Homo sapiens: one gene and its partner. The protein of the gene in region 1 purifies or fractionates together with the protein of each later gene. This does not show direct contact. Each region holds a gene or a part of one and is shown in the gene's direction. Other genes may lie near its edges.

The links. Proteins that work in one complex are often made in the same cells at the same time.
Region 2: the proteins of PARN (region 1) and GRIPAP1 fractionate together in Homo sapiens (co-fractionation; one large-scale study listed by BioGRID). This does not show direct contact.

The regions. Positions count from the first base shown.
Region 1 is NC_000016.10:14,580,380-14,585,838, reverse strand, and holds part of PARN (poly(A)-specific ribonuclease PARN), read left to right. Parts: intron 1-1,047; coding exon 1,048-1,090; intron 1,091-1,416; coding exon 1,417-1,492; intron 1,493-3,547; coding exon 3,548-3,658; intron 3,659-4,895; coding exon 4,896-4,965; intron 4,966-5,459. UniProt on the Homo sapiens protein: 3'-exoribonuclease that has a preference for poly(A) tails of mRNAs, thereby efficiently degrading poly(A) tails.
Region 2 is NC_000023.11:48,977,286-48,981,764, reverse strand, and holds part of GRIPAP1 (GRIP1-associated protein 1), read left to right. Parts: intron 1-73; coding exon 74-169; intron 170-292; coding exon 293-349; intron 350-450; coding exon 451-550; intron 551-3,329; coding exon 3,330-3,460; intron 3,461-4,479. UniProt on the Homo sapiens protein: Regulates the endosomal recycling back to the neuronal plasma membrane, possibly by connecting early and late recycling endosomal domains and promoting segregation of recycling endosomes from early endosomal membranes.

The DNA.
Region 1 (5,459 bases):
TCAAAAAATCACAGTTTGAACTGAGAGTGAAAGTAGACCAACGACTCCTTTTTTCTTATCTCTCATCTTGCTGTCTGAAGAACTGTTGAAGCCTCCTTGAGATGGCTCTTGTCTGTCTTGCATGTAGGATGTACCTTGTAACTATTGAAGTGTCCAATTGAGAGTGTTCAAGAGTCAGTCAAGAACTGTCCATCTGGCTAGAGATTTTGTTTTTCATCCACTTCAAGTCAGTGCCTTTTCCTGTTGGTGTTTTCCATAGTTATTATTGCCCCCTTGTTCTGATAGGTCATATGTCACATATCTCTGAGACATCATAGGTCAGCCATGTGGAGCCTACCGAACAAGTGTTTGTGTCTTAGGACCTGTTGAAGAGGGATAGGCGTGGTGTTCGAGCAGTTTCTCTTTCAGCTGGGCTTATTTCTGTCCTGTTACCCACTCTGTTCACATTTATATGAAAAAAAAAAAAAAAAAAAACAGAGAAATAGAGTTTTCATGTGGGTTTCTCCCCACCCTCCCCTTTTGGTGTTTCTGATCTCTGAAATAGAATAATAAGAAATAAAAACAACAGCGTGAAAGTACTGATTGTAGATTTTGGCCCTGCAGAAGAATTTATAGTTTACAAACCTGAGGAGTAGGAGTAGATGGTAGCAGTTTGGGAATGGTAGACCGGCAGCAGTATTTGAACCACGTAAAACCATGTGAGAGTATTTGACTCACCCTTGAGATTGATGGAGCCCAGGCTCTCTGAGGATCCAGGTGAATCTAGAACTTGTACTCCAAGTGTGGACTCTCCTGCAGTTGCTCAATGAAGTCGCTGATGATGGGACTGAGTACCTACTCCAACGTAGCAGGGATGCTGGTGCTGGGTTCAAAATGGCCAATGTGTTTAATTACTTTGTCTGTGTTTAAGTATTTTCTGTATTAAACATTTTATGTTTTAATTATGTTTTTTATGTATGAAGTATTTTAAGTAGCTTACATATTTGAGTAAAAGACATTTTAAACATTGATATACATTTTGTTTACCTTGTTAAAAATTCTTTTTAGACTCTTGGATACTAAATTGATGGCCAGCACACAACCTTTTAAGGTATTATTCATTTGCTACTTTATAAAGCGACTGCATATTACTGAGTGAAATGAATGCCAGAACAATATAGCCTTCTGGCAAAAGGTTTGGAGGTATTTAATGCATCTGTAAAGATCTTTATTCATTTGGTTATACTTTGTATATTATAAAAATTAAACTAGCTGCTTCTCTTTCACATTGAAAAAAACGAAGACTTCTGTGTTTCTTTAAAGAACACAAGGAGACAGTACTAGATGCTGTCTTTTTTTTGGGGGGGTCAGTGAATCTCTTTAATATATTGTTCTGAGATGATGAAATCTCATAATTCTTTGCTTCGTGGTTTGCAGGATATCATTAACAACACATCCCTTGCGGAATTGGAAAAGCGGTTAAAAGAGACACCTTTCAACCCTCCTAAAGTTGGTAAGAATATTAAACCGGAAACCCTCCAAACTCTTTGTAATAATTATTGATGTATATTGTAGAAGAAAAGCAGAATGGCTCTGGAGACCGTATTGTTCATTTATAGATTTTGGCTGAATTCACTTGCACGTACCGTGTGTTGAATTATTGTTTTTTGAATAAAGATGGTCTTTTAATTCTACATATATTTTATGTTAATGGAGTTGGGTAGCCATTCATTGAGAATTTTAGCAATTAAAGCTTCAAGGCTTCTATTTTCTAATAATATGGAATTCTCCTAAAACTTGATGTGCCCTTTTATTCTTTCATACATTATTGAAGCAGAGACAAAGAGCTAGTGATTAATCACCAGGGGTAGAGTAAAAAATATATTTTCCATCTCAGAAAAGCCCGAGAACTGGATTTACAGGTGAGATTAAGGCAAGTCCCCACCCTGCCTCCTTTTCAGCTGGTTTAGAGAGTAGAAACAGCAGCACTGAGGAAAACCAGAAGTAGGGAGATGAGATGGAGGTGTTTTGCCACCTCGGGCCACCACCAAGGTATGTGGAGAGCCTACCAGGTGCTACTTCCTTGGTCCCTGTTAACCTGATTGTGCTGCTGATACGGTGATTAGCGAGCCATTAGTTGTAGCCTGAAAACTTCTAAAGACATGGATAATAGGACTAATGGTTTAGAAATTGATAATGCAAAGTATTAAAGCAGCCAAGATTACAGTTATTTGCCCCTTTCTGGGTAATAGTCCAAGAAAGGAATTAAGAAAAGTGGTGGTGGGGCCATTGGGGGAGAAAACGTGGACCTTTTCTATAACAATATAATGGAAATAATTGATTTTGGAAAGAATGTGTCTCAGTTGATGATGGAGTGGAAGATATTACTTAGGTGGCTACCATGTTAAAAGGCTTTTTTTTAAAGGCATCAAGTCTAATATTTAATATGGAGTTAAAGAATTCTTGCTTAAAGAGCATTGTATTGACATAAAAACAGTTACAGCCTTTTCATTGTTAATTTCCATTTATGCTTTTGATTCTGTGTTATAGTAACCTTCCTGACATTCATTTCCAGAATGGTTCTAGGATATAATTATTTATGAGTTATAGTTTTATGTTATTATTTCCATATAAAATAGTGGTATCTGGTAGAGAATTCAGTCTAAAGCAGGTCATTCCTCTTATAGTTTATCTGGTCACATCTGTATTTATCAATGTCACAAAAGAACCATATTGTATATAAAGCGGTCTTTGCTGTAAAGTGGTTCCATGATCCAAGGCCAGCATTATAGCAAGTTCGATTTATTTTTGGAGTTGGTTGTGCTGTCACCTTTCGATCTCTAAGCTTGGGAACATAGTAGAGGACAGTAGTGAGTTGGAGCTGTTGATAGTGAATTGCAGTCTTCTCTTTTTTTGGGGGAGGGTTGCCTCAGGTATTGATAGATAACAGTTTTTGAGCACTTACTATGTACCAAGCACTAGGTAAGAGTTTAACTTATATTATCTTATCTGATCCTAACAATAACCTTTTGAAGAAGGTTTGATTATCATCTCTGTTTTACAAAACTGGAACCTTAGGGATGAAGTGACTTGCCCAAGGTCATACCGCAAATAAGTGGTGGAGCAGAGATTCGAACTCAGTGTGACTCCAGAGCCCATGCTCTTAATCTTTACTCTGGATCATCTATTGTGGCCTGATGTGACCATCTTGTATAAGGGAAGAATATCCTTTTCATGGCCTTAGAAAGCAAGCAGAAGAGGAATCATTGTCCTAGAGTGAGTTATGGATGATCATAAATAGCACCCACCAGTGTGGGACGAGAAAGCCCACGGCTGAGTCCTTTGTAATCTAACTGAGGCATTTCTGTATCCTAGACCAAAGCCCTCCTTTTCAGTGACTCTGTTATCTTGTATTTTAAGGTCTTATATAGAGAGAATTAAGGAATAGATAGCTTTTTTCTGCCTATTTAGGGTATTTCTCTAGCATATGCTAATGCAATTTTGATTGGTAGGGCAATGTGCTTACTAGTCTTTGTTTTGAGGAAAACTTTTTCCTTTTTTTTCTTAGAAAGTGCCGAAGGTTTTCCAAGTTATGACACAGCCTCTGAACAACTCCACGAGGCAGGCTACGATGCCTACATCACAGGGCTGTGCTTCATCTCCATGGCCAATTACCTAGGTACGCATTACATGTCTTTCAGTCAAACACGCAGTGATCTAGGGTGGATCTTACCTGTCTCCTGGCTTAGGCTGCTGTAATAAATTACTGTCGAGTGTGGGGCTTAAACAACAGACATTTATTTCTCATGTTCAGGAGGCTGGAAAGTCCAAGACCCAGTTGCCAGCAGACCTAGTATCTGGTGAGAGCCCACTTCCTGGTTTGCAGATGGCTGCCTTCTCCTGTCCTTACGTGGTGGAGAGCAGAGAGAGCAGAAGCTGTGCCGCCTCTTTTTTAAGAGTCAGGGTCTCACTCTGTCACCCAGGCTGGAAGTACAGTGGTTCAATCATAGCTTACTGCAACGCTGAACTCCTGGGCTCAGCCTCCCAAGTAGCTGGGACTACTGGTGTGCATCACTGTGCCTGGCTAACTTTTTAATTTTTTTATAGAGACAGGGTCTTGCTGTGTTAACCAGGCTGATCTAGAATTTCTGGGCTCAAGTGATCCTCCTACCTCAGCCTCCCAAAGTGCTGGAATTACAGGCTTGAGCCACCGCACCCAGCCTCCTGACCCTTCTTATAAGGGCACTAATTCCCTCGTGACTTAATTACCTCCCAAAGGTCTCACTTCCAAATACCATCGTACTGGGGAGGCTTCAACATATGAATTTTAGGGGGACACAAACATTGAACCTATAGCACTACCATTTCCTTGGGATCCACTCACCCAATTAAAAGTGGGAGGGTTTTGAGGTAGGAGTGGGAGGAGATGAGGGGAGGAGGAAATCTGCAAGAAAAACCACTGACACTTGCTGTGGTATGGTACTTGGTGCGTAAGAATACCTTTCACAGGCCGGGCGCAGTGGCTTACTCCTGTAATCCCAGCACTTTAGGAGGCTGAGGTGGGTGGATCACCTGAGGTTAGGAGTTTGAGACCAGCCTGACCAACATGGAAAAACCCTGTCTCCACTAAAAATACAAAATTAGCTGGGCATGGTGGCACATGTCTGTAATCCCTGGTCCTCGGGAGGCTGAGGCAGGACAATCACTTGAATCTGGGAGGTGGAAGTTTCAGTGAACCGAGATTGCGCCATTGCACTCCAGCCTGGGCAACAAGAGTGAAACTCTGACTCAAAAAAAAAAGAATACCTTTCACACTTGTTGAACCATGCTGTTAATTTAAATCTGTTTTGGTCTGAACTTTCAGGCTTGGTCTATGTGACTATGAATAATAATACCTCTCTTCTTTTCTTCATTAGGTTCTTTTCTCAGCCCTCCAAAAATTCATGTGTCTGCCAGATCAAAACTCATTGAACCTTTTTTTAACAAGTAAGTAATCAGAGAGTTCCAGTTTCCAAGTTCTCTCACTGTGGAACAGCCTCATATCTTGGGATGTCAGTTTGGAGTTATTGGGAGCTATAACACATTTTTAGATAAGCTGTTTTTCATCTCGAGTGACTCACATGTTTTTTGAAAGTAGAAAGTGACCTTTTGGGGAACAAATGTATTAAAAATATAGGCTTAAAAAAAAAAAAGAAAACATTGCTAGACGTAGTATAGTAGATCTCTTCCAAGAAAAAGAACTGGTAGTTCTGGCATTTAAATTTCCTATGAGGGGCCGGGTGTGGTGGCTCACACCTGTAATCCCAGCACTTTGGGAGGCTGAGGTGGGCAGAGTGCTTGAGGTCAGGAGTTCGAGGCCAGCCTGGCCAACATGATGAAACTCGTCTCTATTAAAAATACAAAAATTAGCCAGGCGTGGTGGCATGTGCCTGTAATCCCAGCTACTCGGGAGGCTGTAGTGGGAGAATTGCTTCAACCCA
Region 2 (4,479 bases), on another chromosome or scaffold:
CAGACAGTGACGGGCCCTCCTGGGAGGACAGAGGCTTCCCAAGCCAATGCCTAAGCTGCTTTCTGCTTTGCAGGGCAAGGAGGAGGAGCTACAGGATGTACGGGATCAGCTCGAGCAGGCCCAGGAGGAGCGGGACTGCCACCTGAAGACCATTAGCAGCCTGAAGCAGGTCAGTGGTCACTGCACAGCCCCAGACACACCCCTGATCCTCAGCGTACAGGAGGGGCAGGGAGGGAGCATGCTTCAGGCAGCCCTTCCGGCATCTACCAGCCATGCCTGCTTTCTCCCACAGGAGGTGAAGGACACAGTGGATGGGCAGAGGATCCTGGAGAAGAAGGGCAGTGCTGCGGTAAGACAGAGCGGTGCCCAAGCACGGCTCCCTCCTACCTGTAGCCTCCCTCCTATGGGCCCACTGGGCCTCAGTCCTCATGTTACCCCTGTCCCCCACAGCTCAAGGACCTCAAGCGGCAGCTGCATTTGGAGCGGAAACGGGCAGATAAGCTGCAGGAGCGACTGCAGGACATCCTCACTAACAGCAAGAGCCGCTCAGGTGAGGGACTAGGACAGGGAGAGGAGGCTGAGGCATGGGGGAGGTAGGGCCTGGGCCTGCAGGCTGCAGGTTAGTCCTGCATCTTCCTCAGCTGTGCTTTCCTGCTTCTGTCGCTCTGGAACTCCATCTTTTACCTTTTCTCTGTCTCTCCTCTGATTCTTTCTCTGCATTCTCTCTTTATTTCTATCTTTCTCTCGTTTTTGCCCTGTCTCTTCTCTGTTTCTGTCTCTGCCTCTGTCTCAGTTTGTTCTCTCTCTTTCCTCTATGTTTGCCTTTATCTCCTTGCTTTCTTTCTCTAGTTTTCTCCTTTTCTCTCTCTTTTTTTTTTTTTGAGACAGAGTTTCGCTCTTGTTGCCCAGGCTGGAGTGCAATGGTGTGATCTCGGCTCACCGCAACCTCTGCCTCCTGGATTCAAGCAATTCTCCTGCCTCAGCCTCCTGAGTAGCTGGGATTACAGGCATGCACCACCACGCCCAGCTAATTTTGTATTTTTAGTAGAGACGGGGTTTCTCCATGTTGGTCAGGCTGGTCCCGAACTCCCGACCTCAGGTGATCCGCCCGCCTCAGCCTCCCAAAGTGTTGGGATTATAGGCATGAGCCACTGGGCCCGGCCCCCGCCCTTTCTTTTCTCTGTCCCTTTATCTCTTCCCGCCACTCTGTGTCCTCTTCGTCTCTTCTGTTTATATCTCTGTCTGTCTCCTCACTGTATGTACTACATTACACACTCCCACACCTCACTTGGCATTTCTAAATCTATTGTATACAATCTCTCATTCTATAAATCTCCCTGCTCAAGTACAGGGTCCCTGATATAAAACTCCCTGAGTCTCTGCCCTCTAGAAGCCCCCAGTTGAGCTACGGAGACAGACTTATACATAGTCAGCAACGCTGTGGTGTTTTCATTATACAGCTAATCCAATCTGTTATTTCTGCCACTTCAAGCAGAAGACACACACACACACACACACACACACACACACACACACACAACTTTAGTTGCTTCAGCCTTTTTTAAGACGGGGATGGCCTATAAATACATTTAAGTAAGTAAAATGCAGTGATGGCTCTGGTGCATCTCTTAGATTACAGACTCAGAGAAAACTTGGTCCCTTATTCCCCCACTCGGGATACCTACGGATCCCCACTCAGTCACCCCACCCTTGCCAGAGATCCTCGAGGGCTTTAAGTGATGTGGCAAAACAGATGTGTATCTCTCACCAAATCAATTTCTCTCTGAGGCACTCGGTCTCCTGAAGTAACCTTTCTTTAAAAAGGAGTTTTGTTTCTGTTTTATCACAGATGAATGTAAGAATCTTGGGAAAGGTGTAATCCCAGCACTTTGGGAGGCCAAGGTGGGTGGATCACCTGAGGTCAGGGGTTCAAGACCAGCCTGGCCAACACGGTGAAACCCCGTCTCAACTGAAAATACAAAAAATTAGCTGGGTGTGGTGGCGGGCGCCTGTAATCCCAGCTACTTCGGGAGGCTGAGTCAGGAGAATTGCCTGAACCCAGGAGGCAGGGGTTGCAGTGAGCCGAGATTGCGCCATTGTACTCCAGCCTGGGCGACAAGACTGAAACTCTGTCTAAAAAATAATAATAATAATAATCTTGGGAAACGTTACAATCGTATACCATACATTCAATACATTCACCTTGTCCATTAGATTAAACTGAGATTTAGGTGCGTGGGTACGAGAGCCTGCTTGCATTTCTTTTTTTTTTTTTTTTTTTTTTTTGTTAGACGGAGTCTCGCTCTGTCGCCCAGGCTGGAGTGCAGTGGCGCGATCTCGGCTCACTGCAACCTCCGCCTCCCGGGTTCACACCATTCTCCTGCCTCAGCCTCCCAAGTAGCTGGGACTACAGGCACCCGCCACCACGCCCACCTAATTTTTTGTATTTTTAGTAGAGACGGGGTTTCACCGTTTTAGCCAGGATGGTCTCGATCTCCTGACCTCGTGATCTGCCCGCCTCGGCCTCCCAAAGTGCTGGGATTACAGGCGTGAGCCACCGCGCCCGGCATCTTTTTTTCTCTCTGTCTCTGCTCTGGCTCACTTCTTTCACCAGGGTCTCAGTTTCTATCATCTGCTCTGGCTTTCCATCTCTGGCATTTTCTTTCTGCAAGTGGATGTGCCCTGTGCCCTCTCTAGCTGTCTTCCTTTCTCTGAACCCTGTGTCCAAGTGTGTCTGCCACTTGAGACCCATGTGTACCCATGTCGTTCTCTTTCTCCAACCTCTTCCATTTTCTCCCTCTCATTTTGTATGTGTTTCTCCAGAAAGGCAGCTCTTTCTTTTCTTTCTGTTTTTTTTTTTTTTTTTTTTGAGACAAGAGTCTCACTCTGTCACCCAGGCTGGAGTGCAATGGTGCGATTTCGGCTCACTGTAACCTCCGCCTCCTTGGGTTCAAGCGATTCTCCTGCCTCAGCCTCCTGAATCGCTGGAATTACAGGCACACACAACCACACCTGGCTAATTTTTGTATTTTTAGTAGAGACGGGGTTTCTTCATGTTGGCCAGGCTGTTCTCGAACTCCTGACATCAAGTGATCAGCCCACCTCAGCCTCCCAAAGTGCTGGGATTACAGGTGTGAGCCAGTGCGCCCAGCCTCAGCTCTTTTTTCTGTCTCTGTCTCTCCCTGTCCTCCTGTCTGCTTCTGCCTTTCCCCATGCCCAGGTGTCTCTCTTTCCATCTCTGTTAAATCTATTTCTGCCTCTTCCTGCTGGTTGCTGCCCTGGGACTCAGGGGTATTGGGGCTCAAGTTTCTCTTCCCTCCACCACCCAGGCCTTGAGGAGCTGGTTCTCTCAGAGATGAACTCACCAAGCCGGACCCAGACAGGGGACAGCAGTAGCATCTCCTCCTTCAGCTACCGGGAGATCTTGCGGGAAAAGGAGAGCTCGGCTGTTCCAGCCAGGGTAAGGGGAAAGGAAGAACCTACAGCTCCAGCTTCTCTCAACCCAAAAATCTGAGAACCCCTCCCCTTTTCTCCTCACCTAAACCCATCTCCTACTTTGGGCGCAGCACACATATTTTCTTGTCAACTTTTCCCCAAGCCCACCAACTTGGATTCAGATTGCGACATGCAGGACAGGCCAGTCATTCTCTCTCTCTGACTTTCTGTTTAATCATCTGTGGGCTAATTCCCCCTTCTCTGGTGCCATAAATTATGTGGCTCATAGTAGGTGCACCATCCAAGGAGAAGGTCCCTTTTTCCAACTTGTAATGATCACTAATTATTATTGCCGGCTGTCATGTCAGCCTCCTTACCAGCCACTTTCCTTTGGAAATAACTTTTTTATTGTTCCACAAATAGTATGTGCTCATTGTAGTACATTTTTTAAAAACCACAAATGAGCAAAGATTTTTTTAAAACCTTAAATGTCTGGCCGGGTGTGGTGGCTCATCCCTATAATCCTACACTTTGGGAGGCCAAGGTGGGCGGATCACTTGAGCTCAGGAGTTTAAGACCAGCCTGGGAAACGTGGTAAAACTCCGACTCTATTTAAAAAAAAAACAAAAACAAAAAAACCTTAAATGTCAAAAAAAAATAATATTTTCACCATCCAGACGTCACCATTATAAATTCTTAGTTCAGGGCTGGGCGCGGTGGCTCATGCCTGTAACCCTAGCACTTTGGGAGGCTGAGGCGGGCAGATCACTTGAGGTTAGGAGTTTGAGAACTGGCCTGGCCAACATAGCAAAACCTCATCTCTACTAAAATACAAAAATTAGCCGGGCGTGGTGGTGCGTGCCTGTAGTCCCAGCTACTCGAAAGGTTGAGGCAAGAGAATCGCTTGAACCTGGGAGGTGGAGGTTGCAATGAGCCGAGATCACACCACTGCACTCCAGCCTGGGCAACAGTGAAACTCCATCTCAAAAAATAAATAAATAAAATAAATTCTTAGTTCATACCCTTCCAGAATTCTCTCTCTTT